Linked DNA regions of Homo sapiens. The protein of the gene in region 1 binds, or shares a complex with, the protein of each later gene. Each region holds a gene or a part of one and is shown in the gene's direction. Other genes may lie near its edges.

Region 1 (7,822 bases):
TGATAGGTGCTTAAAGAAAGAAAAATAATATCCGAAGACGTATTGACTAACCACTATTCTGAATACATTTATTGATTGATTTCTCAAACACTGCTAAGTAATATATACTATTGCTGTTTTACACGAGGAAACTGAGGCTTAGATCAGCTATACCACTTGTTCAAGTCTACAAAACTAGTAAGTGACACAACTGAAATATGATTCTGTCCAGCTTTTTTTCTTTCTTTTTTTTTTTTTTTGAGATGGAGTTTCAGTCTGTCACCTAGGCTGGACTGCAATGGCGTAATCTCGGCTCACTGCAGCCTCTGCCTCCTGGGTTCAAGCAATTCTCTGCCTCAGCCTCCCTAGTAGCTGTGATTACAAGTGCCCACCACCATGCCCGGCTAAATTTTGTATTTTTAGTAGAGATGGAGTTTCACCATCTAGGCCAGGCTGGTCTTGAACTCTCGACCTTGTGATCCACCTGCCTCAGCCTCTCAAAGTGTTGGGATTACAGGCGTGAGCCACTGCGCCTAGTCCTACTTTCTTTCTTAAAATAATATTTATTTATTTAAAAATTAGAGACAGTGCCTCACTTTGTTGCTCAGGCTGGTTTCAAATTCTTTGAGTTCAAGCAGTCCTCTTGCTTCAGCTTCCCAAAGTGCTGGGGTTACGCGCATGAGCCAGCACACCTGGCCCTGTACTTATCTGTACAGTCCTTTAAATAATATGTACATTTAGGCCAGATGCGGTGGCTCATACCTGTAATCCCAGCACTTTGGGAAGTCGAGGCGGGTGGATGCCTGAGGTCACGAGTTTGAGACTAGCTTGGCCAACATGGTGAAACTCCATCTCTACTAAAAATACAAAAATTAGCCAGATGTTGTGTTGTGCGCCTGTAATCCTAGCTGCTCAGGAGCCTGAGGCTGGAGAATCACATGAACCCGGGAGGCGGACGTTGTAGTGAGCTGAGATCAGGCCACTGCACTCCAGCCTGGGCGACAGACTGAGACTCCATCTCAAAAAAAAAAAAAAAGTACATTTAAAATATTGATACCTGTTACCTCATTATCCTTTAGAAAGATGGGATCAATTGTATTCTCTTCCCAAAAGCGTCTTCCACATTTATTTTTTTGAGATGGGGGTCTCACTCTGTTGTCCAGGCTGTAGTGCAGTGGCACCACCATAGCTCACTCAGCCTCCTGAATAGCTGGGGCTATATGCCACCATGCCCAGCTAATTTTTTAATTATTTGGAGAGGCAGAGTCTCACTGTGTTGCCGAGGCTAGTCTGAAACTCTTGGGCTCAAGCAGTCCTGCCACCTTGGCCTCCCAAAGTGCTGGAATTACAGGTGTGTGCCACTGTGTCTGGCTGTCTTCCACATTTCTATGTGAGATAATTTTTTCATGGGTTACACGTTGACAGGGCAGGGAATGGTGAGGAGAGGGACTTAAGGGCCTTTGCGTTTTAGAACACAGGTTTCCATTTGTAGCACTGGCAATGCAAGTGATATTGATGTGTATAGATTGGGGCCACAGAGCAAGACAAGTACGGTAATCACTATCAGTCTTAGGCAATTTGGTGTGATGACTTGTTTTTGATTCTCCTCTTTTCTCCTTCCTGGGCCTTTTACATGGGAAGCCTAACTGTTGTGTTATAACCCTAGGCCCTAAAGTACCTTTATTTTTTTTATTTTATTTTGTTTTTGAGACAGAGTCTTGCCCTGTCGCCCAGGCTGGAGTGCAATGGCGTGATCTCGGCTCACCGCAACCTCTGCCTCCCGGGTTCAAGTGATTCTCCTGCCTCAGCCTCCCTGGTAGCTGGGATTACAGGCATGCGCCACAACGCCTGGCTCATTTTTTGTATCTTCAGTAGAGACAGGGTTTCACCATGTTGGCCAGGCTGGTCTCCCAACTCCTGACCTCGTGATCTGCCCACCCCAGCCTCCCAAAGTACTGGGATTACAAGTGTGAGCCACTGCACCCGGCCGTAGTAACATTTCTTTTCTTTTTCTTTTTTCTTTTTTTTATTGAGACGAGTCTCGCTCTGGTCGAGTCTACGCCAGGCTGGAGTGCAGTGGTGCTGTAACCTCCGACTCCCTGGTTCAAGTGATTATCCTGCCTCAGCCTCCCGAGTAGCTGGGATTATATGCATGCACCACCACGCCCAGCTAATTTTTGTATTTTTAGTAGAGAAGGGGTTTCACCACGTTGGCCAGGATGGTCTCAATCTCCTGACCTTGTGATCTGCCCACCTCGGCCTCCCAAAGTACTGTGATTACAGGTGTGAGCCACTGCGCCCAGCCTTCTTTTTTTTCTATTTATTTATTTATTTTTGTTTGAGATGGGGTCTCACTCTGTCACCCAGGTTGGAGTGCAGTGGCATGATCTCGGGTCACTGCAACCTCTGCTGCCTGGGTTCAAGTGATTCTCCTGCCTCAGTCTCCCAAGTAGCTGGGATTACAAGTGCCTGCCACCATACCTGGCTAATTTTTGTATTTTTAGTAGACATCGGGTTTCACCATCTTCGTCAGGCTGGTCTTGAACTCCTGACCTCGTGATCCACCTGCCTCGGCCTCCCAAAGTGCTGGGATTACAGACGTGAGCCACTGCACCCGGCCTTTTTATATTATTTTTAAAATTTTTCATAGAGACAGAGTCTCGGCCGTGTTGCCCAGGCTGGTCTTGAACTCCTGGACTCAAGTGATCCTCCCACCTCAGCCTCTCAAAGTGCAGTGACTACAGGTGTGAGCCAATATGTGTGTGGCTTTAAAGTGACTTTTCTGTTGGGATGAGAAAGAAGATCTTTCTCCTTTTTTTTCCTTGAGACAGGGTCTCACTCTGTTGCCCTGGCTGGAGTGCGGTGGCGCGATCTTGGCTCACTGCAACCTCTGCCTCCTGGGTTCAAGTGATTCTTCCACCTCAGCCTCCCGAATAGCTGGGATTACCGGTGCATGCCACCACTCCCAGCTAATTTTTTGTATTTTTAGTAGGGATGGGGTTTCACCATGTTGGCCAGGCTGGCCTCAAACTCCTGACCTCAAGTGATCCTCCTGCCTCAGCCTCCCAAAGTGCTGGGATCACAGGTGTGAGCCACCACGCCTGGCCAAAAGTTCTTTCTCTTATGTTTGTTGTCAGACCACTTTTGTGCTATGTATCTCCCCCTCCTTAAGGGACTTAATAAAATGACACCACTTTGTACAATTCCCAAATGTTATTTCACTGCTGGAGATGGTGGGGTGCTGTCAAATGTTTTTCAGCAGCTAGCAATATGGTGAGAACATTACTGAGGCAGTGGGTTTCAGATACTGGGTGTTTGTTTTTGTTTTTGTTATTAGGCAGAGACTCACCCTCTGTCTCAAAAAAAATAATGATTGCCTAGTACTAGTTCATTTAAATTAATTTCCTAGAGCATATTTAAGTGGGTCTTTTTTTTTTTTTTTTTTTTTTGAGACAGATCCTTACTCTGTCACCGAGGCTGGAATGCAGTGGCATGATCTTGGCTCACTGCAACCTCTACCTCCTGTGTTCAAATGATTCTCGTGCCTCAGCCTCCTGTATACCTGGGACTACAGGCATGCACCACACACAGCTAATTTTTGTATTTTTATATTTTATTTTTAAATTTTTTTTTTCCTCCTGGGTTCAAGTGATTCTCGTGCCTCACCTCCTGAGTAGCTGGGATTACAGGTGCACACCACAATGCCCAGCTAATTTTTGTATTTTTTTTTTTTTGAGACGGAGTCTTGCTTTGTCACCCAGGCTGGAGTGTAGTGGTGTGATCTCCGCTCACTGCAAGCTCTGCCTCCCAGTTCACGCCATTTTTCTACCTCAGCCTCCCAAGTAGCTGGGACTACAGGTGCCCGCCACCATGCCCGGCTAATTTTTTGTATTTTTAGTAGAGACGGGGTTTCACCGTGTTAGCCAGGATGGTCTCGATCTCCTGACCTCGTGATCCACCCGCCTCGGCCTCCCAAAGTGCTGAGATTATAGGCGTGAGCCACCACGCCCGGCCAATTTTTGTATTTTTAGTAGAGATGGGGATTCGCCGTGTTGGCCAGGCTGGTCTTGAAGTCCTGGCCTCAAGTGATCCGCCCACCTTGGCCTCCTAAAGTTCTGGGATTATAGGCATGAGCCACCGCACATGGCCTAGACGCTGGGTTTTAAAGACTTTCAGAATTTTACAAAAATTGGGGCAGAGAACTGCCAACTTTATTTTTGGCAAGATAAGGACGTTTTTAAAACTGCTATTTATTACGATTATTTTTATTTATTTATTTTTCTTGAGATGGAGTCTCACTCTGTCACCCAGGCTGGAGTGCAGTGGCTCGATCTCGCCTCACTACAACCTCCACCTCCCGGGTTCAAGTGATTCTCCTGCTTCAGCCTCCCGAGTAGCTGGGATTACAGGCGTCTGCCACTATGCCCAGCTAATTTTTTGTATTTTTAGTAGAGATGGGGTTTCACGATGTTGGCCAGGCTGGTGTCGAACTCCTGACCTCGTGATTCGCCCGCCTCGTCCTCCCTAAGTGCTGGAATTATAGGCGTGAGCCACCGTGCCCGGCCACAGTTATTTTATTTTATAACTTTAAAATAGAGATGAGGTCTTGCTATGTTGTCTGGGCTGTTCTCCAGCTGGCTTCAGGCGATCCTCCTGCCTCAGCCTCCCAGAATGCTTGGATTATAGGCGTGAACAACCATTCCCAGCCAAAGGCTGTTTTTTTAAATTTTTGCACCATTCTCTCAAAGAGCACTGGTGTTTTGATAGCATTCCTCAAATAGCATTTCAAGGGGCTCGAGGATTGGGGAATGGAGAGGACATCACTCATGCCTGCATCATCAAGAGTAATGCTACCTACCTTTATCCACATATGGGCTCTGGTTCCAAAGCAATAAATGTTTGAAAATAGCTAGCCTGGGTGACATTCACAGTGAGACCCTTTCTCTACAAAAAAAAAAAAAAAAAGTCGGGAATGGTGGCTCATGCCTGTAATCCCAGCACTTTGGGAGGCTGAGGTGGGCAGATCATGAGGTCAGGAGATCGAGACCATCCTGGCTAACACGGTGAAACCCCGTCTCTACTAAAAATACAAAAAATTAGCCAGGAGTGGTGGCCGGCATCTGTAGTCCCAGCTACTCGGGAGGCTGAGGCAGGAGAATGGCGTGAACCTGGGAGATGGAGCTTTCAGTGAGCCGAGATTGTGCCACTGCACTCCAGACTGGCCGACAGAGCGAGACTCCATCTCAAAAAAAAATCAGCTGGGCATGGTGGCTCAAGCCTGTAATCACAGCTACTCAAGTGGCCACAGTGAGCCATGATCACGCCATTTCACTCCAGCCTTGGCCATAGAGTGAGACCCTGTCGCAAAAATAAAAAAAAAATAGCTGATGGTTTTGGGAGTCACACAGACTTGGACTGAAGTTCCCATTTGTTCTAAACTCATAAAGTTTAAAACAACCTCTCTGAGCCCCTGGAAGGTAATAACTACTTTGAAAGATGGCTGTAAAGATTACAAATACTATATAGAATACAGGTCTAGCCTTTACCAGTTGTTTAATGGTAGCTGTTAAGAATAGGTTGGTTTGGCCGGGGACAGTGGTTCACACCTGTAATCCCAGCACTTTGGGGAGCTGAAGTGGGCAGATCGCCTGAGATCAGGAGTTAAGGAACAGCCTGGCCAACATGGTGAAACCCCATCTCTACTAAAAATAAAAAATTAGCCGGGCATGATGGCATGCGCCTGAAGTCCTAGCTACTCAGGAGACTGAGGCAGGAGAATCGCTTGAACCTGGGAGGCAGAGGTTGCAGTGAGCCAAGATCACACCACTGCACTTCAGCCTGGCTGACAGTGAGACTCCATCTCAAAAAAAAAAAAAAAAAAAAAAAGAATGGATTGGTTTAGGGAGAGGAGATGTGGGGTTGAAAATAAACTACTCTGTTAGTTGTCTTTCCTACTCCAGGGCTTAGGAATGCCCCCTTTTGGTTCTACCTTTTCTGACATCCTCAAGTCCTTGACTTCTCCCAGTCATGTTCTCATCCCAGCTCTGAAGTCACCTCTATGTTGACTTTGTTATAAACTAATTTGATTCTTCTCTCCCTCTGCCCTTGACAGCATCTGTGGAACCCTCCATTCTGTGGATCAGGTGAGATATAGCACGGGCCCCAGAATTGGTTCCTGGAGAAGGAGAGGGGAGACTTAAGGGTTGGGTTCTTACATCATGTCTCTAGGGTTAATAATGGTGTTCGTCGGCCAGGCACGGTGGCTCACGCCTGTAATCCCAGCACTTTGAGAGGCCGAGGCCTGAGGTCAGGAGTTCAAGACAAGCCTGACAAACATGGTGAAACCCCGTCTCTACTAAAAATACAAAAAATTAGCTGGGCGTGGTGGTGGGCACCTGTAATCCCAGCTAGTCGAGAGGCTGAGGCAGGAAAATCATTTGAACCCAGGAGGCGGAGATTGCAGTGAGCCGAGATGGCACCATTGCACTCCAGCCTGGGCAACAAGAGCAAAACTCTTGTCTCAAAAAAAAAAAAATAATAATAATAATGGTGTTCATCTTCCTTTCCTAGTATCTCAACATCAAACTAACTGACATCAGTGTCACAGACCCTGAGAAATACCCTCACATGGTGAGTTGGGGTCTGTGGAGAAGAGGAAACACCTCTAAAGCAGGAGGCCCCTGGGTGGTTAGAGGACATTTTTAAGGGTGTTTTCATATTTGTCCATCTTTGTCTAGTTATCAGTGAAGAACTGCTTCATTCGGGGCTCAGTGGTCCGATACGTGCAGCTGCCAGCAGATGAGGTCGACACACAGTTGCTACAGGATGCGGCAAGGAAGGAAGCCCTGCAGCAGAAACAGTGATGGCTCCTCCTCCTCTTCCCCTCCCTCTTTCATTGGTGACCCATAACCCCAAGTCCCAGCCCAGAACCCCTAACCCCCAATACTTGAAGGGGTTTTGTTTTTTTACTAATGATGGTTTTGTGGGTTTTTTTTAAGGGATGAGTGGATGAGAGGAGTAATAGGGAACAGCTATCCTCTCTTGAGAAGGGGAGGATAAGTAGGCTGGGAAACTTCAAAGCCTTCCCAGTCCCCAGCACCTGCCTTTCTCACTACTTCTCTGGAGATGGTAGGAGAGTTTCCTAGGTCTTTCCAGGGCAGCATGTGATTCATTTGGGGATGGAAGGAATCTGTCCCGCATCGGGAATAAAATTTATGATGCAAATTTGTGTTTTGGTTCTGTTACTATGTGTTGGGCAGGGGGCTGGGACATGGAAAAGGATGTCGAATTCATCCAAGCCCCTGTTACTCTGCGTTAACCCAGCCAAGAATCCAACTCAGCTTCCCACTACTCTCCTTGGTATAAAGCATATAATACAGTTGCTCTACACCATGTTTCCCCAACATGTCCCTACCTGTATGTTCTCCCTGTGGCCTTTTGCTTATACCATACCTGCAACTGGAGTGCTTGCTGTCCTTCCATTAATGTGATAGTGTCATAAGATACATTTCATGCTACCAGACTTCACCAATCCAACCAAATCAGTTCATGTTTTCTGAATATGTATAGAAGATAAATACAAGTGATGTAATTTATATTTTAGAGAAAAGTTGTGACTGGGAATTACTAAACTTCATTCACTCATTCAGCAAATATGAGTTCATGATACAGATGAGACTTCTCAGCCTTAAGGGACCCTTAGAGACCATCTAGTGTGACCCTCCTTTTTGTTTTTGAGACGGGAGTCTCACTCTGTTGCCCAGGGTGGAGTGCACTGGCTTGGTCTGGCTCACTGCAACCTCCGCCTCCCGGTTCAAGCGATTCTCCTGCCACAGCTCCTGAG
Region 2 (7,822 bases), on another chromosome or scaffold:
TCATCACCCGCAAGGGTGGTGAGCGCACCTACACCCAGCTGGTGCGGCTCATCATTCTGGTGAGTTGGGAGCAGTCGTAGAATATAGAGTCCAGTTGTGTCAGGGCGGGTTTGCTGGGTTTTCATGCGAAATGTTTCTTTGCTGCCTTTTCTGTAGGCACTAGCCTTTGTAATGACTAGTCCTCCAATTCCGTAGGATGAGATCCATCTTCTCCACGATGACAGAGGTCCTGTCTTAGAAGCTTTGGTGGCCAGGGCCATCCAAAACATTATAATGACAGCTATTGTCAGCTTGTGTTTGCCATCTTATTTATTTATTTATTTGTTTGTTTGTTTGTTTGAGATGGAGTCTAGCTCTGTCGCCCAGGCTGAGTACAGTGGCACGATCTTGGCTCACTGCAGCCTCTGCCTCCCGAGTTCAAGCAATTCTCCTGCCTCAGCCTCCCCTGTAGCTGGAATTACAGGCGCCTGCCACCATGCCCAGCTAATTTTTATATTTTTAGTAGAGACTGGGTTTCACTGTGTTGGCCAGGCTGGTCTCGAACTCCTGACCTCGTGATCTACCCACCTCAGCCTCCCAAAGTTCTGGGATTACAAGCGTGAGCCACTGCGCCTAGCCTGCCATGTTATTCTTTATATATTTTTTTATGTCTGAAATATTTTACTACACTTGATCTTAAGCCAAAAGGCCAAGAAGCTATGTCTGAAATATTTTGAAACAAATGTAAACAGATAGACAAAAAACCATCATATCCAACATCATTTAGGGTTTTATAAGTAAAAGAATCCATTCTCTGAGGGAATGAGTGAGGAAGCAGGATATTGTATTCCATATACACAGAAACTTCCAGAGATTAGTGACTAAGTCTGAGTATAGTTTAAGTTGTCTGGGAAAAGCAAGAAAGGAGACTTCACGTGTTGGTTTTCAGTGTTCTGGAGCAGGGGTTGGCAGTCTGTGGGTACTGGCTTTGTTCTGTTGGAACATAGTTACACCCATTTGTTTATGTATTGTTTACAGCTGCTTTTGGCTGCAATGGCAGAGCTGAGTATTTGCAATAGGGGCTGCGTGGGCCAAAGCCTGAAATACTGACTGTCTGGCTTTTTTTTTTTAGACGGAGTTTCACTCTTGTTGCCCAGGCTGGAGTGCGATGATGCAATCTCAGCTCACTACAGCCTCCGCCTCCCGGGTTCAAGCAGTTCTCCTGCCTCAGTCTCCCGAGTAGCTGGGATTACAGTTGCCCGCCACCATGCCCAGCTAATTTTTTGTATTTTTAGTAGAAATGGGGTTTCACCAATCTGATGGCCAGGCTGGTCTCGAACTCCTGGCCTTGGGTGATGCACCTACCTCAGCCTCCCAAAGTGCTGGGATTACAGGCGTGAGCCACTGCCCCCGGCTTTTTTTTTTTTTTTTTTTTGAGATGGAGCATCTGACTTTTTAAAAAAAACATTTCTGGTCCCTGCTTTAGAGCTTTGCTACTTGAAGCCTGATCCATGGTTGGGGTCATAGCAGCAGCAGCATGGAATAGGAGCTTGTTAGAAATGCAGGATTTGTGGCCTCACCCCACACCTGCTGAATACAATCTCCTTTTTAACAACATCCCCTGGCTTTGGGATACTTAATAAAATTTGAGATGCACTGCTTTAGACTATTCAAACTCATCATTTGATGTGTGATAGCTTTTGTTCTTGGGAACTATAACTGCCAGAGGTGAAGCTTCTGATCAGATCATATTTATATCCTTTTTCATAAAGAAGTTTACCTTTAAGTAAAGTTTAAACTCATTTATCTGAGTTTCAGAATTTCTTTATACAAAGTATGTTACTGAACTGTACCAAAGCAACTCATGGTCAGAGTCTGTTACTTTCTGGAGTATTTCATGGGAAATATTGTCTCCATCCTTTGGGCATCTGTGGCTTGGGATCCCTTGTCTTTTTTCTTAGGCATATTAGGTTATATGCCTACAATATGGGACAATTCCAGGAAAAGGGACTATGTATCTCTAGTGCTAGAGGTAATTTCTGTCCTCCAATTCCGTAGGATGAGATTCATCTTCTCCACGATGACAGAGGTCCTGTCTTAGAAGCTTTAGTGGCCAGGGCCATCCGAAACATTGAGATGACCCAAGAGGATGTCCGACTCATTGGTCTCAGTGCCACCCTACCCAACTATGAAGATGTAGCCACCTTTCTACGTGTTGACCCTGCCAAGGGTCTCTTTTACTTTGACAACAGGTATCAGGAAAGACTGGGCAAAGTTCTGCCAAGGTGACCATCCTGCTCTCTTTCCTCTTTTCCAAGGAGTGCTACTGGGTTGGGTTTTAGAAGGGCCTTTGGGTTTTGATGTGGTGTGAATCATAAAGGAGGAATATTGCTCTTGGGGCAGTGAAAAAGACTGTTTATTCCCACAGTATTTTCTGCCAAAGCCTCATTTGTCTAACTGTTGAACTTCTAGCTTCCGTCCAGTGCCTCTGGAACAGACATATGTGGGTATCACAGAGAAAAAAGCTATCAAGCGTTTCCAGATCATGAATGAAATCGTCTATGAAAAAATCATGGAACATGCTGGAAAAAATCAGGTTTGCCCGTGGTTTATGGTTACTCTTGAACCCCATTCTTTCGAATGTTTGATTCACCAATAATTGGGGAAGATTGACAGAAATTAAAAGAGAGAAGACACAACATAAATCACCAATATCAGCTATGAAATGGGATATTACTACAGAACCTATAGCCACTGGAAGGATAATAAGGGAATACTATGAGTAATTTTATGCTCATAACTTTAAAAATTCAGAAGAAATGGACCAGTTCTCCAACAACTACCAGTTAACTAGCAAAACTCAGCCCAGATGAAATAGATAACATGAAGAGCCCTACAACTATTAGAGAGTTGGAGAATTAAAAATCCCCCCAGCAAGCAATCCCCAGTCCCAGATAATTGTTTTGTGCATTCGCATTATCCAGGGTCCCTCCATAAAAGATTTGGGGTCACTTACACTAAAAATGCAAGACAATAAAAAGAGGAAAATGAAAAACTAGAGGGCATTTTACTAGACAGTGTGATAGAATTTTTAAATTGAAAGTCGAGTTGAGCAATGTTAACTAACAAAAAATAAGGAAAAGTGACTGGTTTTGTATTTCTTTTTGTCTGATGAAAAGAAGCATATGAATTTATATGAAGAGACAGATCTTTTCTTGGCACTAAATACTAGGAAGACTTCATTCCCTACAACAGTGTACTAGTCTCAGACTTATTTCCTAAATCCTTTTATAAGTAGTGTAATGTTTTAGTTGTTATTTTGCAGACACATTTTCATGCAGCTTTGACTCTTGTTAGGTGCTTGAACATAAATTCTGAGTTGAGAGGCCCGAATTTGTAGTTGTAGTCTATTTAAAGTTGCTGTTCAAGATAGGATGTTGAAGTTGGTTTAATTTCTCAGCTCCAGGACTGTGAACTTGGTGGGTGCATTCCCTTAAAAGTCTTTCCAGCCGTGTTTAGGCTTCCTCTGAGCCTGCACACATTCCTGCCCTTGCCCCTCTCCAGGACCTTGGCTTCTGGTGGTGATGGTGCAACTTCTGCTTCCTGCTGCAGGTGCCCTGGGGCTGTGAGTATCTCGTGACTGTAGCAAACTGTGGCTTCTCCTTAGGTGCTGGTGTTTGTCCACTCCCGGAAGGAGACTGGAAAGACAGCCAGGGCCATCCGGGACATGTGCCTAGAAAAGGACACTCTGGGTCTGTTTCTGAGGGAGGGCTCAGCCTCCACAGAAGTCCTGCGAACAGAAGCTGAGCAGTGCAAGGTGAGGAGGGGCCAGCTGGGTTCTCTCATTCCTACCTGGCAGCTGTGTCCATCTCAGGCCCCAGACAGCTCCTCTAGGACTGTACTGTGGTATTGTTGTTTCCCATGGGTTAAGGTTGATTGTCTGGATGTGATTATTACTATTCCACATAATAGTTAAGGGGCAGGGTCTCATGGGAGGAGATTTCCTTAGTCCTTGGATGAGTCCTACAGGAAGGCTCGCCTCATCCCCGGTTCTTTGTTCCACAGAACCTAGAGCTGAAGGATCTTCTGCCTTATGGCTTTGCTATTCATCACGCAGGCATGACCAGGGTTGACCGAACACTCGTGGAGGATCTTTTTGCTGATAAACATATTCAGGTGAGGGGGTGCAAAGCGTTTGGAGGAGCAGGTGGGACATACTTCAGAAGATGGGCAATGTCAAGTTTGTGCCATGTTTGCTCCTGGTACTTTATTGCTTCTGGCCCAGCTAGCCCAGGTCAGAGGGTTGTGGTGGACACAATAAATAGAACCTTATGCTACTCTCCCAACTCTTCCCACCTTGCTTGAGTTTAGGATAGTCTGAGAAGCATAGTGAAGCAAGCACTTTGGTGACTTCAGATAGCTCCAAACAGTGTCTCATGGGGGCACGCGTGCCCTTGTCGTTCCCTCTTTCCGGATAGGCTCTGTTTTACCTTTTCTAGTAACTTTAAGGTTGTTTAATACAAGTCTGCACTTGTGCCTCTGGAACCTTGAAATGTTCATTACTGAATAGATGAGGAACCCAAGGAAACCTTTCCTCTTTATTCTGGTGTCACATTGACAAGTACTGGGACCCCACGCGCCCTACCGGCTAGTCCTGAGAGAAGCTCTGAGGCCAACTGCCTAGAGAAGCCAGGGATATTAACCCCTGGTGATGGCATCTGTTCTCCTCATTACCTTGTTTTGCCTCTGTAGGTTTTAGTTTCCACAGCAACTCTAGCTTGGGGTGTGAATCTCCCTGCACATACAGTCATCATCAAAGGCACCCAGGTGTACAGTCCAGAGAAGGGGCGTTGGACAGAACTGGGAGCACTGGACATTCTGCAGGTACAGAGCCTTTTGAGTTTATTCTCAGCAGGGATCAGTATCCTTGCCTGAAATGCAGGGATGCTGGAAAGCTAGCAGATCAGAGGTCTAGTTCTGTAATGTAGATACCTGCATCAAAATTCAGACATTCTCTTGACATAGCATTCTTGGTTCGCTGTCTCTGATCTAGATGCTGGGACGTGCCGGAAGACCCCAGTATGACACCAAGGGTGAAGGCATACTCATCACATCTCATGGGGAGCTACAGTACTACCTGTCCCTCCTCAATCAACAACTTCCTATTGAAAGCCAGATGGTTTCAAAGCTTCCTGACATGCTCAATGCAGAAATCGTGCTAGGAAATGTCCAGAATGCCAAGGTAGGGGAGGACTGCTTGTTGTGCTTCATGCTTTCCCCGCAGACACCAAGGCACCAGGAGTGGGTCGGTCCCTATTGTGCTGCGGGCCAGCAGCGTCCGAGGCCTTCCATCCCTGCACCCACATCTTGGGTCTGGCAGATAGTTCCCCTTGTTACCAAGATCTTAGAAGACGCTTAGATCTTTTTAATAATGAAATGCTAAAAACATTCAGAATACGATGTAATATGCATCCTTGTAGTTGGGAATTAATTTCTAAGCAATTCATGGGAGCCTGTCATTTGGACATCAAGAGTTTCTCCATGCTAAGAACCATGAGCTGTGTCTTGTAGGATGCGGTGAACTGGCTGGGCTATGCCTACCTCTATATCCGAATGCTGCGATCCCCAACCCTCTATGGCATCTCTCATGATGACCTCAAGGGAGATCCCCTGCTGGACCAGCGCCGACTAGATCTGGTTCATACAGCTGCCCTGATGCTGGACAAGAACAATCTGGTCAAGTACGACAAGAAGACGGGCAACTTCCAGGTGCGTGGGGTGAGGGTTTTGAGGCAAAGGTCTCAGCAAAAGTTGTTGGCCCAGGAAAAAATTTTTCAGATTGCTCTCTTGATGTGAGTACTGCCTATCTAATCACCTGTTGCTTAGAACAGCAGAAAAATGGGTAGCTTTTCCCATAACTTGAGGTGGATAATTCAGCTGTCTTGTCCGTGCAGACATCATTTCACTATGGGTCAGCTTATTCTGCTGTTTTTCTTCATGTGCCTGGGCCTGGCACTTGTACTGCTGTGACTTCATCCAGTTGTCCTATTAGGACAATAATGACATTGGGTCATATACTTTACCAAAAAAAAAGTACAAAAAACCTATAGGACAGTAACTTATGGTCCACAGTTAGAGGTTGGAGCTCATTAATAGTCAGCACTGGATTGAGTCTACCTTCTCTCCAGGTGACAGAACTGGGCCGTATAGCCAGCCACTACTACATCACCAATGATACAGTGCAGACTTACAACCAGCTGCTGAAGCCCACCCTGAGTGAGATTGAGCTTTTCAGGGTCTTCTCATTGTCCTCTGAGTTCAAGAACATCACAGTGAGAGAGGTGAGCCTATGCAGCATGATGGGGCGGGGAGTTGGTGCTCACCAAGTCACTGAATGGTGTCCCTCCTCGGCCACAAGGCTTTCCCTTGACCTTTTCCTCCTTGTGGCAGGAGGAGAAGCTGGAGCTGCAGAAGTTGCTGGAGAGGGTGCCTATCCCTGTAAAGGAGAGCATTGAGGAACCCAGTGCTAAGGTGAGCTCCTCTCCTCTTTGCTTTGATAAGGATGAGGATTAAGTGGTTTTCATAATCTTCTAAAAGATGAACCTTGAATTTGGGTTCATGTGTGGTTTCCTGCTCAGTTCTCCTAGTTTTTGCAGCCTTCTCGCATGTTCTTTTTATATGAAATAACAATTATTTAGTATTTGTAAATCAAGACCTGTAGCAAATCTCACCTGGCCTGGATGCTCAGAGCAGAAATGTAATTCCCTTTCTTGGACTGTTCAGTGATTGGTCTCCTGCTGGCTGATTTTGCTTCTTTACAGATCAACGTTCTTCTGCAAGCCTTCATCTCACAGCTGAAATTGGAGGGCTTTGCACTGATGGCTGACATGGTGTATGTCACACAGGTGAGAGCGGAGTTGTATGGCAGCTGTGAGAAGGGGCCTGAACAGTTCAATCCCTGTGTGCTGTGTGCATCCTGGGGAAAGGAGGCCCGACCCTAGTGAGATGGGAGGAGTGCTTAGTTCTGCTCTTGCCGGGTAGTTGGTTGGTGCATGTGTGGTACAGCCACTCTGTAGTATACATCTTGAGCACGTGGGAAAGGTAAGACCTTAAGAGGGAATGCTTCGAGGCTCCACGGGCCCTCAGAGAGACAGGAAGAGCCACAGCACGCAGTGTCTGCTTCCCAGCAGCAAAGTGATTTCCCACTGTTGCTGCACAGCTCATAAATAAATCCAAAAATGGCACAGGGTTTTATTAGCTGCTCTTCATCTTTACCTCTAAGAACAGGTCACTGGTACCCTCAACTCTTCCTAGAACTCTAAATGCTAAATGACTCAAAAGCTTTAAAATCATGCAGTGAATGTTAGGTTAAAATGTTGTGCAGTGACCTTGAGCCGCAGCACTCTTCTAATTGTTCCCCATCCGGCAAGCATCTACTATATGGAACGGAGAAAGGCGTAAAGACAGAGGGGACTTTGCCTTTGAGTTAGGGTGGGTGGTTGTGTCAGAGCTGGAGGTAATGAAACCGTGTGTAGAGTGGCTCATGAGGCCTGGGGATAGTCGAGACTTAACAGTGGGAATGCTGCTTCTTTGCTTAGTCGGCTGGCCGGTTGATGCGAGCGATATTTGAAATTGTCCTGAACCGAGGTTGGGCACAGCTTACAGACAAGACCCTGAACCTCTGCAAGATGATCGACAAACGCATGTAAGGACCCAGTGAGCTGGATGCTGGTCACCATGAGTGGGGGTCCCCAACCCAAGGGTCTGATGGGAAAGCCTCAGGGTGCATCTGATCTCCAGACCTGACATCGGAAGTATGACCTGAACCTTGGTGCACATTGAG
Region 3 (7,282 bases), on another chromosome or scaffold:
CTCGTGCCTGTCATCCCAGCACTTTGGGAGGCCGAGGCGGGCAGATCACCTGAGGTCAGGTGTTCGAGACCAGCCTGGCCAACATGGTGAAACCCCATCTCTACCAAAAATACAAAAAACTAGCTGGGTATAGTGGCACACACTTATAATCCCAGCTACTTGGGAGGCTGAGGCAGGAGAATCGCTTGAACCCAGGAGGTGGAGGTTGCAGTGAGCTAAGATCATACCACTGCCCTCCAGCCTGGGTGACAGAGTGAGACTCTGTCTCAAAAAAAAAAAAAAACAAGCAAGACAGGTTCTGGGACAGACAGGCCTGGGTCCAGACCCTGCTCTGTCCAACTGTGGCGAGTTACCTCAGGCTCACGGCCCTGTGCCCTGCCTGGCCTCCCCCAGGGATGGGGAGAACAATAGCACTGATGGCCAAGGCTGGGCAGGCACTTCCTGGCCCCACCCCCCAGCCCTGTGTGGGGTTTTTTTTGTGGTCTTTTCTGCGACCCTTTAGGTCAGGCACTGCTACTGGAACACACCCAGGGAGGCTGGCAGGTCACCCCATCCTGGGAGGAGAGAGAGTGGGCGATAGAACCCAGGACGGGTGGGCCTGGGGCTCGGGGCTCCAGCTGCCTCACTGCACCCCTGCCATCGCCACCGCCTCACAGCCCTGGGCATATGGGTTAAACCTGCCCCAGGGAGCCTGATGTCTTGTCACCCAGGCCTCTGCCTCTTCATTTGGCCATCTCACATCGGTCCAGGCACAGGCCGTAGACACCACAGGCCTGTAAGGGAGGCCAGGGCTGGCCATCGCTTCACTGTGGCTGACAGCTGGGCTCTGTTTGCAGTTTGGATTGGAACCCTGGCTCCATCACCTGCTGGCTGTCTCCCTGGCCACATGACTTGAAGCCTTGGTTTCCACATCTGAAAAGGGGGTGCAATGATCACACCAGCCCGATATTTGAATATTTGATGAGATGATCCGAGGGGCGTGCTTAGCATGGGGCTGGCATCCAGGCCGAGTGCACTCCCCCCGGCGTCTCCACAGTCACCACCGTCCTCGTTGTCAGCGTGCCTTACTGTCATCCTTACCTGATGGCCACTTATCAGCTGGGACATGGCTCTGTGCCCTGCCCTCATCCCCTCTTCCTGTGAAGTAGGAGCTGAGAGCACACACCTCTAGAGCCCAAGGGTGGAAAGCCCCCTTCCAGGACCCCAGGTAGAGCCAGAGGAGGAGCGCGCGCGGTTGCTTTGCTGTTACCTCTGTCTGTCTGTCTCACACAGATTCCACCCCCGTTTTCCGTTGCTCCAGGATCTGCGGCGGAAAGCGGCCCGGCTGGTGGCCGCCAAGTGCACACTGGCAGCCCGTGTGGACAGTTTCCACGAGAGCACAGAAGGGAAGGTGAGGAGGGAAAGGTGAGGGGCGGCCGGGCGTCTTTTCCTCTGGGCCTGGGGTGTCTCTGCAGGGAGACCCTCAGCAGGGAGCCCACCCCAGCGAGCACTGTCCTACCAAGGCGGAGGCAGTGCTTCTGCCCACCCTCCCTGGGGTCAGGCACCCCCTTCCCCAGTGGGGTTTCCTAGGTCTGCTGTTGGAAGGTAGCATGAACCTACTGGCTTAAAACAGTGCAGGTGTGGCCGGGTGCAGTAGCTCACGCCTGTAATCCCAGCACTTTGGGAGGCCAGGGTGGGCGGGTCACAAGGTCAGGAGTTTGAGACCAGCCTGGCCAACATGGTGAAACCCCATCTCTACCAAAATTAGCCGGGTGTGGTGGCACGCACCTGTAATCCCAGTTACTCAGGAGGCTGAGGCAGGAGAATTGCTTGAACCTGGGAGACGGAGGTTGCAGTGAACTGAGATTGCATCATTGCACTCCAGCTTGGGTGACATAGCGAGACTCCATCTAAAAACAAAAACAAAAAACAGTACAGGTTTATTATCTGTGGTCCTGTAGGTCAGAAGTCCAAAATGAGTTTCACTGGGCTGAAGTCAGGGTGTCATCCTGGAGCGTTCCTTCTGGGGGATTCAAGGGATAATCCATTCCCTGGTCTTTTCCAGCTTCTAGGGGTCACTGGCACCCCTTAGCTCGTGGCCCTCCCTCTGTCTGCGGAGCCAGCCACATAGCACCCTCAGACCTCTCTCTGACTCTGCTTCTGTCTTCATATCTCCGCCTCTGTTTTTGTTCCCCTCTTCTATTTTAAGGGCCCCTGTGGCTATACTGAGCCTACTCAGATGGTCCAGGATAGTCTTCCCAGCTCACAATCCTTAAAATCCTTCTTAACCTCTTCACGTCCCTTTTGCCCTGTGATTCTGGGAATTAGAACATGGGCCTCTTTGGGCATGTGTGTGTTGGTGGGGGCGTAATTTGCCTTCCACACCAGGATCTGTCCCCGCTGCAACAGGGGATGTTATTCAAGTAATTATTCAGTTACCTTCTGTCTTCCTTGGTAGATGTACTCGGGAGAGGAGACGTTTTCTGTCTTGTGAACTGTCGTTTGCCAAGCACCCGGCCTGGCACAGCGTTCAGGTGTTCCGTGTCCCCTTCTCCTTTCCCTCTCCCCATCTCACCCCTGGTCTGGGTGTGGGGGTGCAGCTGTGAGTAGCACAGACAGGACCCCTGCCCCGTGGCGTGGACATTCTTGTTGGGGCCGGGTCAAAGAGACAGTCAACAGGTGAACTCTGTCCTGCGTCTAGCGGTGCTAAGTCAACACCAAGAAGAAAAAGAAAGGGGGTGGCGGTGAGGCAGCATTAGGTGCTGATTTAACTAAGGCACGTGGATACTCGGGGGGCCCGCTCAGAGGAGGCCTGGGTGGGCAGCCCACGCGAGCAGCTGCAGGACCTCCCCCTCGCCCTCCCCAGGTGGGCTACGAACTGAAGGATGAGATCGAGCGCAAATTCGACAAGTGGCAGGAGCCGCCGCCTGTGAAGCAGGTGAAGCCGCTGCCTGCGCCCCTGGATGGACAGCGGAAGAAGCGAGGCGGCCGCAGGTGAGGGGCCCTGGGGGTCCGGTAGGCATGGGGGTCATGGAGGGGAGAAGCCGGCGTCCTCCTCCCAGCCGACTCCCTGGCGCCGCCCACCCACCCGTCCCCAGGTACCGCAAGATGAAGGAGCGGCTGGGGCTGACGGAGATCCGGAAGCAGGCCAACCGTATGAGCTTCGGAGAGGTCAGACTCCCAGAGCGCCCTCCTCAACCCCACAGCCAGCCAGCCGCCACCGCCCTCTGCCTCCTGCCACCGCCCCTCCTCTCGTCCTGTGGCCCTGGCTCATGTCTAGGGCGCTGCCCCAGCCTCCCCCCCCCCGGCCTCTATTCTCGTTTCCATCCGTTCAGCCCCAAAGCGACCCTCGCGACCCTTGGAGCCTGTGTCTCCGCTGCTTAGAGCCCCCGCGGCTTCCCATCGCCCCGGGCTCCTTGGCCGGTTCCTCCCTGCCCAGAGGCTCCTTAGTGCCCTGCTGCACGGCCGCCCCGTCCCTGGGCCCCGCCAGTCTCCTCTGTTATCCCAGCGTCATCCCCTTGGTCCTGCAGGACCGAACTCAGAGGCCACCTCATCCTATTAAACCTGTTCTGGTTCCTGACATCCCCCGACCCACACGAGTAAGGAAGGAATGGCCTCCCAACTCTGAGCTCACAGAGCAGTGCTGGGACCGGGCCCCTCTCAGGCTCCCCAGCATCCCCCGCGTGTGTGGGCCCCCAGGCCTCAGCCGGGCCGAGTGGGTACCGGAGCAGGTGCCCGTGGGACCGGCCGGCTGGTGACCGCTGGGCTTCGGGCTGGTGGAGGGGGTGCCTCGGTGGCTGGAGGGCAGGGCCTGGTCGCTGAACTGCAGGGCGCCTCCTCTCCCCCCTAGATCGAGGAGGACGCCTACCAGGAGGACCTGGGATTCAGCCTGGGCCACCTGGGCAAGTCGGGCAGTGGGCGTGTGCGGCAGACACAGGTAAACGAGGCCACCAAGGCCAGGATCTCCAAGACGCTGCAGGTATGGGCCAGACCCAGGTGGGGCTGGGGACCGAGGGACACAAGGTGGGGGGAGCCCAGATCGCAGCCTCCCTGTCCTCCCCACAGCGGACCCTGCAGAAGCAGAGCGTCGTATATGGCGGGAAGTCCACCATCCGCGACCGCTCCTCGGGCACGGCCTCCAGCGTGGCCTTCACCCCACTCCAGGTACCTCCCCTGGGCCGGCTCTGTCCCCAGCCCTGAGACCTTGGCAAGGCCCCTTGCCCTCTGCCCCTGTGAAGAAGGCCAGGATGAGTCTCCTCATGGGGCTGTTGTGGAGGGTGTGGTGACGAGGTATGCAGAGGACGTAGACAGCTCCTGGCACACAGGAAGAGGTTAGCAGAGACGAGAGCCCAGCGCTGAGCAGTCCTCGTGAGCACGCACTGCTTTAGAACCAGGCCCACAGCTGTGTTCAGGGCACCCAGTTCCTCTGTCGGGCTGTGAGCGGGTAACACTGCTCAGCCTCCAGGCCCTCCAGTTCAAAACGGCCAGGACGGTTAAGGTAACCTCAGGACCCCACTCGAGAAAGTTCCCGGCTAGGCGGGCTTGGATGTCAAGTGTGGGTCCAGGCCCCAGCCAGTCAGCAGTGAGCAGCGTGGAGCATGGCAGTCACCGCATCGTCGGAGCCTCGGTTTACCATCCACAGAGCAGGGCGAGCCTGCACCACGGAGGCGAGACAGCAGCGAGCTCATCTGCCCAGTCAGCGGGTGTCTACGCAGCACCTGCTGAGTTCTGTCAGTGTTCCCGGCTCTGGGGATGAAGCAACGAATGAGAGACAAGTCTTACCTTCTTGGAGCCAGTGGGTGGCCGGGCGCAGACAGCTCAGTAAGATGTCCAGTGTAGGAGAAGGCAGAAATGCCAGGCCGGGCGCAGACAGCTCAGTAAGATGTCCAGTGTAGGAGAAGGCAGAAATGCCAGGCCGGGCGCAGACAGCTCAGTAAGATGTCCAGTGTAGGAGAAGGCAGAAATGCCAGGCCGGGCGCAGACAGCTCAGTAAGATGTCCAGTGTAGGAGAAGGCAGAAATGCCAGGCTGGGCGCAGACAGCTCAGTAAGATGTCCAGTGTAGGAGAAGGCAGAAATGCCAGGCCGGGCGCAGACAGCTCAGTAAGATGCCCAGTGTAGTAGAAGGCAGAAATGCCAGGCCGGGCGCGGTGGCTCACGCCTGTAATCCCAGCACTTTGGGAGGCCGAGGCAGGTGGATCATGAGGTCAGGAGATCGAGACCATCCTGGCTAACACGGTGAAACCCCGTCTCTACTAAAAATACAAAAACTTAGCCGGGCGTGGTGGCGGGCGCCTGTAGTCCCAGCTACTTGGGAGGCTGAGGCAGGAGAATGGCGTGAACCCGGGAGGCGGAGCTTGCAGTGAGCCGAGATCGCGCCACTGCACTTCAGCCTGGGCGACAGAGCCAGACTCTGTCTCAAAAAAAAAAAAAAGAAGGCAGAAATGCCAGGGAGGGGAGGAGGTGGAAGGTAGGAGGTGGGACAGGGGAGGCTCTCGTTTCGGAGCAGCCAGGGAGGGCCTCTTTGAGAAGATGAGGCCAGTGGCTGTGCCTTTCCAAGCCTCCCCTCCTCCATCATGAGGTGCTCAGGACTGAAAAGAACGCACAGGAAGCACTTGGCACTGGGCTCACCATTAGAGCCCAATGACTGGGTCCTGTTATTATTTTTAGAGACGGGGGCTCGCTCTGTTGCCTTGAAAATATTTAGGAAGTGCCAGCCAGGTGTTGGCTCCCATTGCTGCCACTATGATCGTCAGTGGTGTTGGTGTGATTTGTGCTAGGACCTCGGGCCAGCCATGTCCCCCAGGGACTCAGTTTCCTTATGCAGAAACTGGGCAGGATTGGCTGTCCTCAAGCATTGGTTGTTTTTAGCACCCCTGAGGAACTTCGTACAAATCCAGGCGCCCTGGTTCCTCCCCACCCTCTCCCTCTAGACCCACTGAGTCAGAATCTCCCAAGACAGGGCAACTCCAGGGACAGGCAAACTGTCTCATGCCCACCAAGGCCTGAGTGCCATGGGGAAGGGCCTGGGGGGCTCTGATGGGTCACAGTTGGGGCCTTCTCCTCACCTAACCCATCATCCTCTCTCCCTCACCTGCCCAGGGCCTGGAGATTGTGAACCCACAGGCGGCAGAGAAGAAGGTGGCTGAGGCCAACCAGAAGTATTTCTCCAGCATGGCTGAGTTCCTCAAGGTCAAGGGCGAGAAGAGTGGCCTTATGTCCACCTGAATGACTGCGTGTGTCCAAGGTGGCTTCCCACTGAAGGGACACAGAGGTCCAGTCCTTCTGAAGGGCTAGGATCGGGTTCTGGCAGGGAGAACCTGCCCTGCCACTGGCCCCATTGCTGGGACTGCCCAGGGAGGAGGCCTTGGAAGAGTCCGGCCTGGCCTCCCCCAGGACCGAGATCACCGCCCAGTATGGGCTAGAGCAGGTCTTCATCATGCCTTGTCTTTTTTAACTGAGAAAGGAGATTTTTTGAAAAGAGTACAATTAAAAGGACATTGTCAAGATCTGTCCTTGGGGAGTGATCATTTTTCAAACAGCCGGGGCAACTAGAAGAATCAGAGCTGTGGAGCTTTGAGAAAAGAGCTTGGCCCTCGGGTCCAAGCGGTGTCTAGGCCCACTCCCTTCCCCGTTACTTTCTCGTCATGGGATCCCAGAAGGAAAAAGCCCTCTCCAACCCCCTGGAGAGCCGCAGTCACTTTGATAGCAAATGATGTGGCTGCCAACAGCCGCAGATCTCAGCGCAGGCCGACCGGGATTGCTGTCCACCTCAGGCCAGCCTCCTCACCTTTCCAAGCCTCCACACCTACGCCCAGGTGCCCAGGACTGGAAAGAATGCACAGAAAGCACTTAGCATGGGACTTGCCATCAGCGCCCTATAACCAGGTCCTGTTATGATTGGGTTTTTTAGAGACGGGGTCTCTGTTGCCCAGGTTGGAGTACAGTGATGCGATGAAGCTCACTAAAGCCTCAAACTCCTGGGCTGGGATTACAGGCATGAACCAGCACAGCTGGCCTCCTGGTTAATTTAAATTTTTTTTTTTTTTCTGAGGTGGAGTCTCGCTCTGTTGCCCAGGCTAGAGTACAGTGGTGCAATCTTGGCTCACTGCAACCTCTACCTCCCGGGTTCAAGCAATTCTCCTGCCTCAGCCTCCTGAGTAGCTGGGATTACAGGCATGTGCCACCATGTCCCGCTAATTTTTATAGTTTTTAGTAGAGACAGGGTTTCGCCATGTTGGTCAGGCTGTTCTCGAACTCCTGACCTCATGATATGCCCACCTCAGCCTCCCAAAGTGCCAGGAT
Region 4 (7,801 bases), on another chromosome or scaffold:
CGTGTAAAATGATTATTCTAGTCCTGCGATTTTATAAGAATATTCTTTTCATTCCATCTCATTTTGGGTGTAGTACTCTGGTCAATACAAAATATATGGGCTCTGTTGTCACCAGGGTTTTTTAATTCCTTTACTGATTGTACTACAATTCTTTTTTAAGCAGTGAATCTCATGTCAATTTAAAGTGCATTATAGAAAAGATTTAACAAGTCTTATCTAGGACAGTTTTCAAATAACCTAAAGGATAGGTGTCTGCTTCAAATAGAATTCGAGATTACTACAGTAACTGTGATATTTTGCACTTCTGGTCTTGAAAAGTAAGGAGCTCTGTTCTAATCTAACCATAGCTGAGAAAAACAGTAGGCTTCCTAAATCAAATTTAGTTTCTGTGATTCAGTAGAACTGTTTTAATGCTAATACTGCAGACATTTTTCAAGATGCTGCTATACATTTCTTTTCTGTATTACAAAATTATTGGCATTGGCTAAGAAAACTGTGTAAAACTATATTGCTCCCTGTATGCAGAATATATTAACTGTTTTCTTAATATATTAACTGTTTTGAGCTGTCAGCTGTGTGATGTGTTAACTATTAATATTTTCTTGATATAACCTGTCTTGATATTTTCCACAATTGGCATGGCTAAAATTACTGTCTAATTGAACACCTTTTAAAGATGTATATAAGGGCCGGGTGTGGTGGCTCACGCCTGTAATCCCAGCACTTTGGGAGGCCAAGGCAGGCAGATCACCTGAGGTCAGGAGTTCTAGACCAGCCTGGCCAACATGGTAAAACCCCCTCTCTAGTACAAAATACAAAAATTAGACCTGTAATCCCAGCTACTCGGACGGCTGAGACAGGAGAATTGCTTGAATCCGGGAGGTGGAGGTTGCAGTGAGCCAAGATTGCACCATCGCACTTCAGCCTGGGGGACAAGAGCGAGATTTCCTCTAAAAAAAAAAAAGATATATATAAAAAGAGGGTCAGGCGTGGTGGCTCATGCTGGTAATCCCAGCACTTTGGGAGGCCGATGCGGGCAGATCACTTGAGGCCAAAAGTTGGAGACCAGCCTGGGCAACATGGTGAAACCCCATCTCTGCTAAAAATGCAAAAATTAGCCAGGCATGGTGGTGTGTGTAATCCCAGCTACTAGGGAGGCTGAGGCAAGAGAATCACCCTAACCCGGGAGGTGGAGGTTGCAGTGATCTGAGATGGTGTCACTGCACTGCTCTCCAGCCCAGATGACAGAATGAGACTCCATCTCAAAAAAATAAAGAAAGGGAGAGAGAGAGAAAGAAAAAGTTAGTTACTGGGAAAATTGAGACAGAAAGTGAACAAGGGAATTTCCAGGATTTTTTTCATCTCTAAATACACAGACTGGACCACTTAAGAATTTAGAATATAGGTGGGGCATGGCGGCTCACACCTGTAATCTCAGCACTTTGGGAGGCCAGGGTGGGTAGATCACTTGAGTCCAAGAGTTCGAGACCAACCTGAGCAATGTAATGAGACCTCATCTCTACAAAAAATAATAAAAAATAAATAGCCAGACTTGGTAGCACGCGCCTGTGGTACTGGCTTCTCAGGAGGCTGAGATGGGAGGATTGCTTGAGTCCGCGAGCACACCACTGTACTCCTGCCTGGGTAACAGAGTGAGGTCTTGTCTCTAAATTAATAAATAAAATATGATGGGGTGTTGCTATGTTGCCCAGGCTGGCCTCAAACTCTTGGGCTCAAGGGATCCTCCTGCCTCAGCCTCCTAAGTAGCTGGGGCTACAGTTGCCTGCCACCATGCACATCTTACATTATGTTTTAAATGAGTTGTATTAATGTAGAATAAATTCATTAACAAGATATTGTCCACAAGGACAAATGTCTATTGGGAAAATAATAAAATTTCTAATTTAACTCGAGGGAGAAAATTAGAAATGCCTTTCTGAACATATAATACATGGAAGAGCCTTTGGTAGTTACATGTATTTTATGATAAATTATAAATTCTATTTTACGTCTTCTACTTAAGACTTAAAGGGAGAAAAATCCTTGAGACATAGAGCTATGACATATTTTCAAGTTCATAACAACTCTCCATTTGGAATTGGCCTGTTCTTCCTTTTTGTGTCTTGCCTCAGGAGAGAAAATAATAAAAATACCACTCCCTGAAATCCCCATTAACTCTACTATGTAAGTGAACTATATATCGTTCCTTTTTTCAGATTCTAAAGAGATTTTCTTTATTCTTTATTAGTGGCATTCAAAATTGCTAATGTTTATTCTGTTTTTTTTTTGTTGTTGTTGTTTTGAGATGGAGTCTCACTCCGTCGCCAGGCTGGAGTGCAGTGGCACGATTGGCTCACTGCAACCTCTGCCTCCCAGGTTCAAGCGATTCTCCTGCCTCAGCCTCCTGAGTACCTGGGACTACAGGCGTGTGCCACCACACCTAGCTAATTTTTGTATTCTTAGTAGAGATGGGGTTTCACCATGTTGGCCAGGATGGTCTTCATGTCTTGACCTCGTGATCCGCCCACCTCGGCCCCCAAAGTGTTGGGATTATAGGCGTGAGCCACTGTGCCCAGCCTATTTTTCTAATTTTTAAAAACTCTATCAAATAACAACAATGTTTTGAATTCTCCCATACTGTCAGTATGGTATGGGGAAAATAAAATAGGAATAGAAAAGGAAAACCAGGAAAAGAGGTGGTTTTCAACCAAATGAGGATTGGACAAAAAGAAAAAAAGAGAAAGAGAAAGAAAGAAGCGTCACAAACAAATCTGGCATTACTTCGTATTTAAAATCTTATGAAGAGTAAGGAGAATGTTGATGGGTGTGAATGAAATAGTGAGAATCAATTTAAAGAATATTCATTAGGCGCCCTACAGTGTGCCTGAAAATGTAGTGTGCACAGTGTATAAAATAAGAAATTGCTTCCTTAAAGTGGCTTATGTCTGGTTATAAAAATAAGATGAATGCAAAACCAGCTAGCAATGCTAGCTTTATGTAGCTTCACTCTGAGCCAGACATCATGTATTAGAAAACAAGGATAAGTAATAACAGCTCATGTTTAAAAGGGCTATGTGCCAGGTCCTATGCTGACCACTTTTCATAGATTATCTCAATTAATCTTCACATTAATCTTATGAGTAGATACTGTTGTCCCCATTTTTTCCAATGGGTATATTGAGACTTAAAAAGTTAAAATAACTTGCCCATTGTCAAATAACTGACCATGGAATTTGAACCAAAGTCATTTAATTCAAAATGAAGAAATTTAATCACGTAAACTACTGCTTCCCATAATTCTCAGCCTTGAGGAACTCAGTCTATGAAGGAATGATGGGTGCTTAATGACCATTTGTTGTATGAATGAATGACGTTCTTTGTGGCCGCTCATGTTTATTGTTTAGCTTTTTTTTTTTTTTTTTTTGAGATGGAGTTTCGCTCTTGTTGTTCAGGCTGGAGTGCAGTTGCATGATCTAGGCTCACTGCAACCGCTGCCTCTCGGGTTCAAGCAGTTCTCCTGCCTCTGCCTCCCGAGTAGCTGGGACTACAGGCGCACGCCACCACGCCCAGCTAATTTTTGTATTTTTAGTAGAGACGGGGTTTCACCCATGTTGGCCAGGCTGGTCTCGAACTCCTGACCTCAGGTGATCCGCCCGCCTCGGCCTTCCAAAGTGCTGGGATTACAGTCGTTACCACTGCGCCTGACCTAGACTGTTCAGGTTTAAGTTCCTAGGATACAAATATAAAACAGACTAGGGCCGATACTTTGCTGTTTTCAACACAGAAGTGGAAAGCATGATTTTACACTTCTGGAATAATTTAGAGTGACATCTGGTGGTTGCCTGTGAGACAAGAATTGTTGAAGAAACTGAATTTAAAAGCCTATAATAAATAAGACTACCAGACATAAAAAGATAAGAACGATGAATTAAAGTAGTAAAAAGTTTAAAAAACATATCTTAAATCCTCACTAAAGAAAAATTTTAAAAAATGCTAGTTGCAGATTTTCAATCCACTGGACTTTAAAAAGAAACAATAGATTCCTTAATGAGTAGTTGTAACGAAAATTGTAACAGTTAATTGATGGCAGGAAATACGAATTGATTTATACTGGTTTGAAGATTCTGGCTTGAGAGGAAATGCAACTTTACGGGGGAAGAAGACTCAAACGTTACAGGAACAATTTATTCACAAGGCAAAATATCTTCAACGTCTCTCCAAAACTTCAAGGGCATTATGGGTATCTGCCGAGATGGTAAAATGTCCAGTGGGCAGGAAATATTTCACCGGATCTCACTTGCCGGGGAAAAAAGCCAGTGAACGCGACCCACGCAGCTGACTAGATCGTGCGCTCGGCCTCAGATTGGTCGAGCCTGTTTGGGCTGCGGAAAAAGCGGAAGCGCGCTTTTCAAAGTCGTCCCACCATCAATGAAGGCAGGCCACTTCCGGCGTAGCCATGGCGGCTAACGCTACTACCAACCCGTCGCAGCTGCTGCCCTTAGGTAATCGCCGTCCTTTGGGGAGCAGGAACAGGGAGCTGACATTCAGGATTGGGGGCCGAGGGGCTGTTCCGAGGCAGGCCCTGGCCGAGTGTGGGGAAATGTATAAGACCAAATGCGGTTCGACTCTGAGCTCCAAGTCTTCGCGACAGCAGGCCGCACCTGCTCTTTAACGTGGTCGGGCTCCTCCAGGCAAGGACTTTGACTTCTCAAACCAGACCTTCACTGGAAAAGGTCCACATTTAGTGAACGCGTCGTCGGCCTACTTTGTTGTGAGCCCGCCTCTGCAGTGTTATAGGTAGTAGGCCTACTTCTCAGCCTGGCGTTTACGATCCCCAGATTAGATAGACCATGTTATGTATGTGGTTGGTTAGTGACACTAACACCCTGGTCCGGAATGAGCCTTAAATGAGGAATCTGGAAACCAGCTCTGTTTGTTATTTATTCATTCAATAAGTAGTAACTGAGTATCTATACACTAGATACCGTGCCTGGGCATTTTTCAATGATAAACCATAGCCATTGCCTTCAAATAGCACACAAGCCAGTGGAGGAGAGAACACTGGACAAGTAGACATCATGCCACATAATGCTAGGCTAGCTAAAGAGATGTTCAAGCTACCGTCAGAGCACAGAGGATAGACAGAGTTGGGAAAGGGAAGCAGTGACCGGAGAGTTTCCGGTGAATATAATTATACCTATCTCCTCTTATATTTTTGTAGTTGGTGAAGAGTGATTGAACTAGTGGTCGTGGCCGTGATTGAAAAGTTTTCATTCCTTCATGCCACAGACTCTTTTGGAAGGCTCATTATGTGCCAGATGCTGTGCTTGAACTGAGATTTGTATTATAAGACCTAAAGTTATTGAATGAATGTTTTTCCTGGTTTTTCTTTCACTATATGCAAGTAAGAGTGCCAGTAGGCACTCAAATATTTGTTGAAATAATGAATGGTAAAATAATATTTTTTCCCTCCTCAGAGCTTGTGGACAAATGTATAGGATCAAGAATTCACATCGTGATGAAGAGTGATAAGGAAATTGTTGGTACTCTTCTAGGATTTGATGACTTTGTCAGTATCCTTTTAAAAGGTGGTGGTGGTATAGGTTTTTCTTAAGTAATAACATAAGAACTATAGACAATCAGTATATTTGTGATTATTATAATAAAAATCAGTTCATTCTCAGGGAACTTATGATAATGTTTTAAGAGGTATGTATTGAAAGACGGTAAAGTTCCTATCAACAACAAGCATTTTGAATTTGAGCCATTGTATTAAACATTGTAATTAAAACTGAACAGGCGAGCCCAGTGGCTCACGCCTATAATCCCAGCGCTTTGGGAGGGCGAGGTGGGTGGATCGCTTGAGCCCAGGAGTTTGAGACCAGCCTGGGCAAGATGATGAAACCCTGTCTCCACAAAAATTACAAAAATTAGCTGGGCATGGTGATGTACACCTGTGGGTCCAGCTAATCTCCGGGGCTAAGGCAGGAGGATCCTTTAAGCCTAAAAGGTGGAGGCTGCAGTGAGGTGTGATTGTACCACTGCACTTAAGCCTGGATGACAGAGCGAGACTTTGTCTCAAAACAAAAACAAAAACAAAAAACAAAAGCTGAACAAAGGCAGAAGCTAGAGTAAATTCTGTATTTATTTTCTTAACACCAAATTTCAGATATGGTACTGGAAGATGTCACTGAGTTGTGAGTAGTGTTAAAGAATTGGGGGGAATCTCTTCTTAATTAAAGACAGTTTTACTACTTTTGAGTAAAATTATTTATGAGAAAACATTACCTCTTGGTGGAATAACGTTAAAGATAGACGTTTTATCTGTTTGCTTGTAAAATTGGATCAGAGTGTTATTACCTTAATGTAATTATTAGTAAACGCCTAGAATATTAGTGGAGACACAGTTTTAAGGTAGAAGATAACAAAAAGAGCCAGGAATTTTAGGGTTCAGGTCAAATAAAGGAACTGATAGTAAGAGCATTTAGGCTGGACATGGTGGCTCATTCCTGTAATCCTAGCACTTTGGAAGGCCAAAGGAGGAGGATTAAGCCTGGGAGTTTGAGACCAGCCTGGGCAACAAAGGGAGACCCCTGTCTCTATAAAAAATTTAAAAATTAGCTGGTTATAGTAGGGGGCAGCTGTAGTCCTAGCTGCTCTGGAGGGTGAGGATCCCTTGAGCCCAGGAGTTCTAGGCTGCAGTGAACTATGATTGTACCACTGTACTCAGCCTGGGCAACAGAGCAAGACCCTGTCTCTTAAAAAAAAAAAAACCCAAAAAACATTTCATTTCATATTTGATTTCCTGGGCAAGCTTTCACTTCTTTTTATGAAGCTCTGTCTGATAGACGTGGGTCTTAGTGTCAGTGAGTTCATTCTGCTGCTTTTAATGAAGGTTACATTACCTAGTGGATAACCTTTGTATCTGAAAATTGTGGATATAATTGCTCAACCTCAGTGTAATTTGTATACAAGGATAACCTTTTTAGGGAGGGTAAGTATTTCCAAAATGTTGGCTTTGATTTTCACTGTTTGTCCTGACTGTATTTTATCTATTCATTTAGTGAAATCACACCAGAAGGAAGAAGGATTACTAAATTAGATCAGATTTTGCTAAATGGAAATAATATAACAATGGTAAGACACATTGAAACTGTTTTATTTTGATGGGAGCCCATTTTTGGGGAGCAGTGATTACAGAACTAACCTTAATGTTGCTTGCTTGACTAAATGATCATGGCCCAGTGGTGCATAAGATGGGAAAGGGGTTCTCTGTGGTCAGGGTCCTAAAGCTCAGCTATTGAAGAGGCATTGGGTCTAAAGGTTAGTTTGCTTGGAACTTTTAATCGCTGTTGAGATAGTAAGTATTAATTGATGACGTTGGGAATTGTAAATAGATACTGACAATCTGGAGAAAATGGGAACGTGGAGTGCAGGGGACAGGCAAAGGTGGCTTAATGAAGAGCAAGGGGTTTTTAGATGACATGGTGGTAGTGTTATTAATAAACTCTTTTTCCTCTTTATGCAGCTGGTTCCTGGAGGAGAAGGACCTGAAGTGTGAATGAGTTTCCTTGACTTACACTAGATTTTGTTTTGGCTTATAATGACAAGAAAATGGAATTTTTTTTCCCACTTTCTAATGTTTAAATCCCATAAAGCTAAGTTTCCCGTTAAAGGGAAGTGCTTTGAAGATGTGTACCCATTTTTGTAAGTTAATCATGATTATCCTGGAAAAAGAAGAAAAGAGCTTCTTCTTTGCAGATGAAAATAAAGGTGTTTTTGGTTAACTGTCATTTTGTTT

Evidence for each region.
Region 2: LSM2 (region 1) and SNRNP200 share a complex: the UniProt entries of both Homo sapiens proteins name them as parts of the U4/U6-U5 tri-snRNP complex.
Region 3: LSM2 (region 1) and PRPF31 share a complex: the UniProt entries of both Homo sapiens proteins name them as parts of the U4/U6-U5 tri-snRNP complex.
Region 4: LSM2 (region 1) and LSM5 share a complex: the UniProt entries of both Homo sapiens proteins name them as parts of the precatalytic spliceosome.

Annotation. Positions count from the first base shown.
Region 1 is NC_000006.12:31,796,777-31,804,598, reverse strand, and holds the end of LSM2 (U6 snRNA-associated Sm-like protein LSm2), read left to right. Parts: intron 1-6,091; coding exon 6,092-6,122; intron 6,123-6,549; coding exon 6,550-6,609; intron 6,610-6,716; coding exon 6,717-6,842; 3' UTR 6,843-7,203; downstream 7,204-7,822. UniProt on the Homo sapiens protein: Plays a role in pre-mRNA splicing as component of the U4/U6-U5 tri-snRNP complex that is involved in spliceosome assembly, and as component of the precatalytic spliceosome (spliceosome B complex).
Region 2 is NC_000002.12:96,287,725-96,295,546, reverse strand, and holds part of SNRNP200 (U5 small nuclear ribonucleoprotein 200 kDa helicase), read left to right. Parts: coding exon 1-59; intron 60-2,037; coding exon 2,038-2,231; intron 2,232-2,451; coding exon 2,452-2,575; intron 2,576-3,646; coding exon 3,647-3,796; intron 3,797-4,044; coding exon 4,045-4,155; intron 4,156-4,731; coding exon 4,732-4,863; intron 4,864-5,032; coding exon 5,033-5,221; intron 5,222-5,550; coding exon 5,551-5,748; intron 5,749-6,167; coding exon 6,168-6,320; intron 6,321-6,429; coding exon 6,430-6,510; intron 6,511-6,800; coding exon 6,801-6,884; intron 6,885-7,577; coding exon 7,578-7,684; intron 7,685-7,822. UniProt on the Homo sapiens protein: Catalyzes the ATP-dependent unwinding of U4/U6 RNA duplices, an essential step in the assembly of a catalytically active spliceosome. Plays a role in pre-mRNA splicing as a core component of precatalytic, catalytic and postcatalytic spliceosomal complexes.
Region 3 is NC_000019.10:54,125,228-54,132,509, forward strand, and holds the end of PRPF31 (U4/U6 small nuclear ribonucleoprotein Prp31), read left to right. Parts: intron 1-1,272; coding exon of another isoform or gene 1,273-1,300; coding exon 1,301-1,390; intron 1,391-2,845; coding exon 2,846-2,973; intron 2,974-3,077; coding exon 3,078-3,150; intron 3,151-3,829; coding exon 3,830-3,958; intron 3,959-4,044; coding exon 4,045-4,143; intron 4,144-6,079; coding exon 6,080-6,205; 3' UTR 6,206-6,486; downstream 6,487-7,282. UniProt on the Homo sapiens protein: Involved in pre-mRNA splicing as component of the spliceosome. Required for the assembly of the U4/U5/U6 tri-snRNP complex, one of the building blocks of the spliceosome.
Region 4 is NC_000007.14:32,487,021-32,494,821, reverse strand, and holds the start of LSM5 (U6 snRNA-associated Sm-like protein LSm5), read left to right. Parts: upstream 1-4,441; 5' UTR 4,442-4,456; coding exon 4,457-4,502; exon of another isoform or gene 4,503-4,797; intron 4,798-5,477; coding exon 5,478-5,573; intron 5,574-6,169; coding exon 6,170-6,197; intron 6,198-7,064; coding exon 7,065-7,137; intron 7,138-7,528; coding exon 7,529-7,561; 3' UTR 7,562-7,801. UniProt on the Homo sapiens protein: Plays a role in pre-mRNA splicing as component of the U4/U6-U5 tri-snRNP complex that is involved in spliceosome assembly, and as component of the precatalytic spliceosome (spliceosome B complex).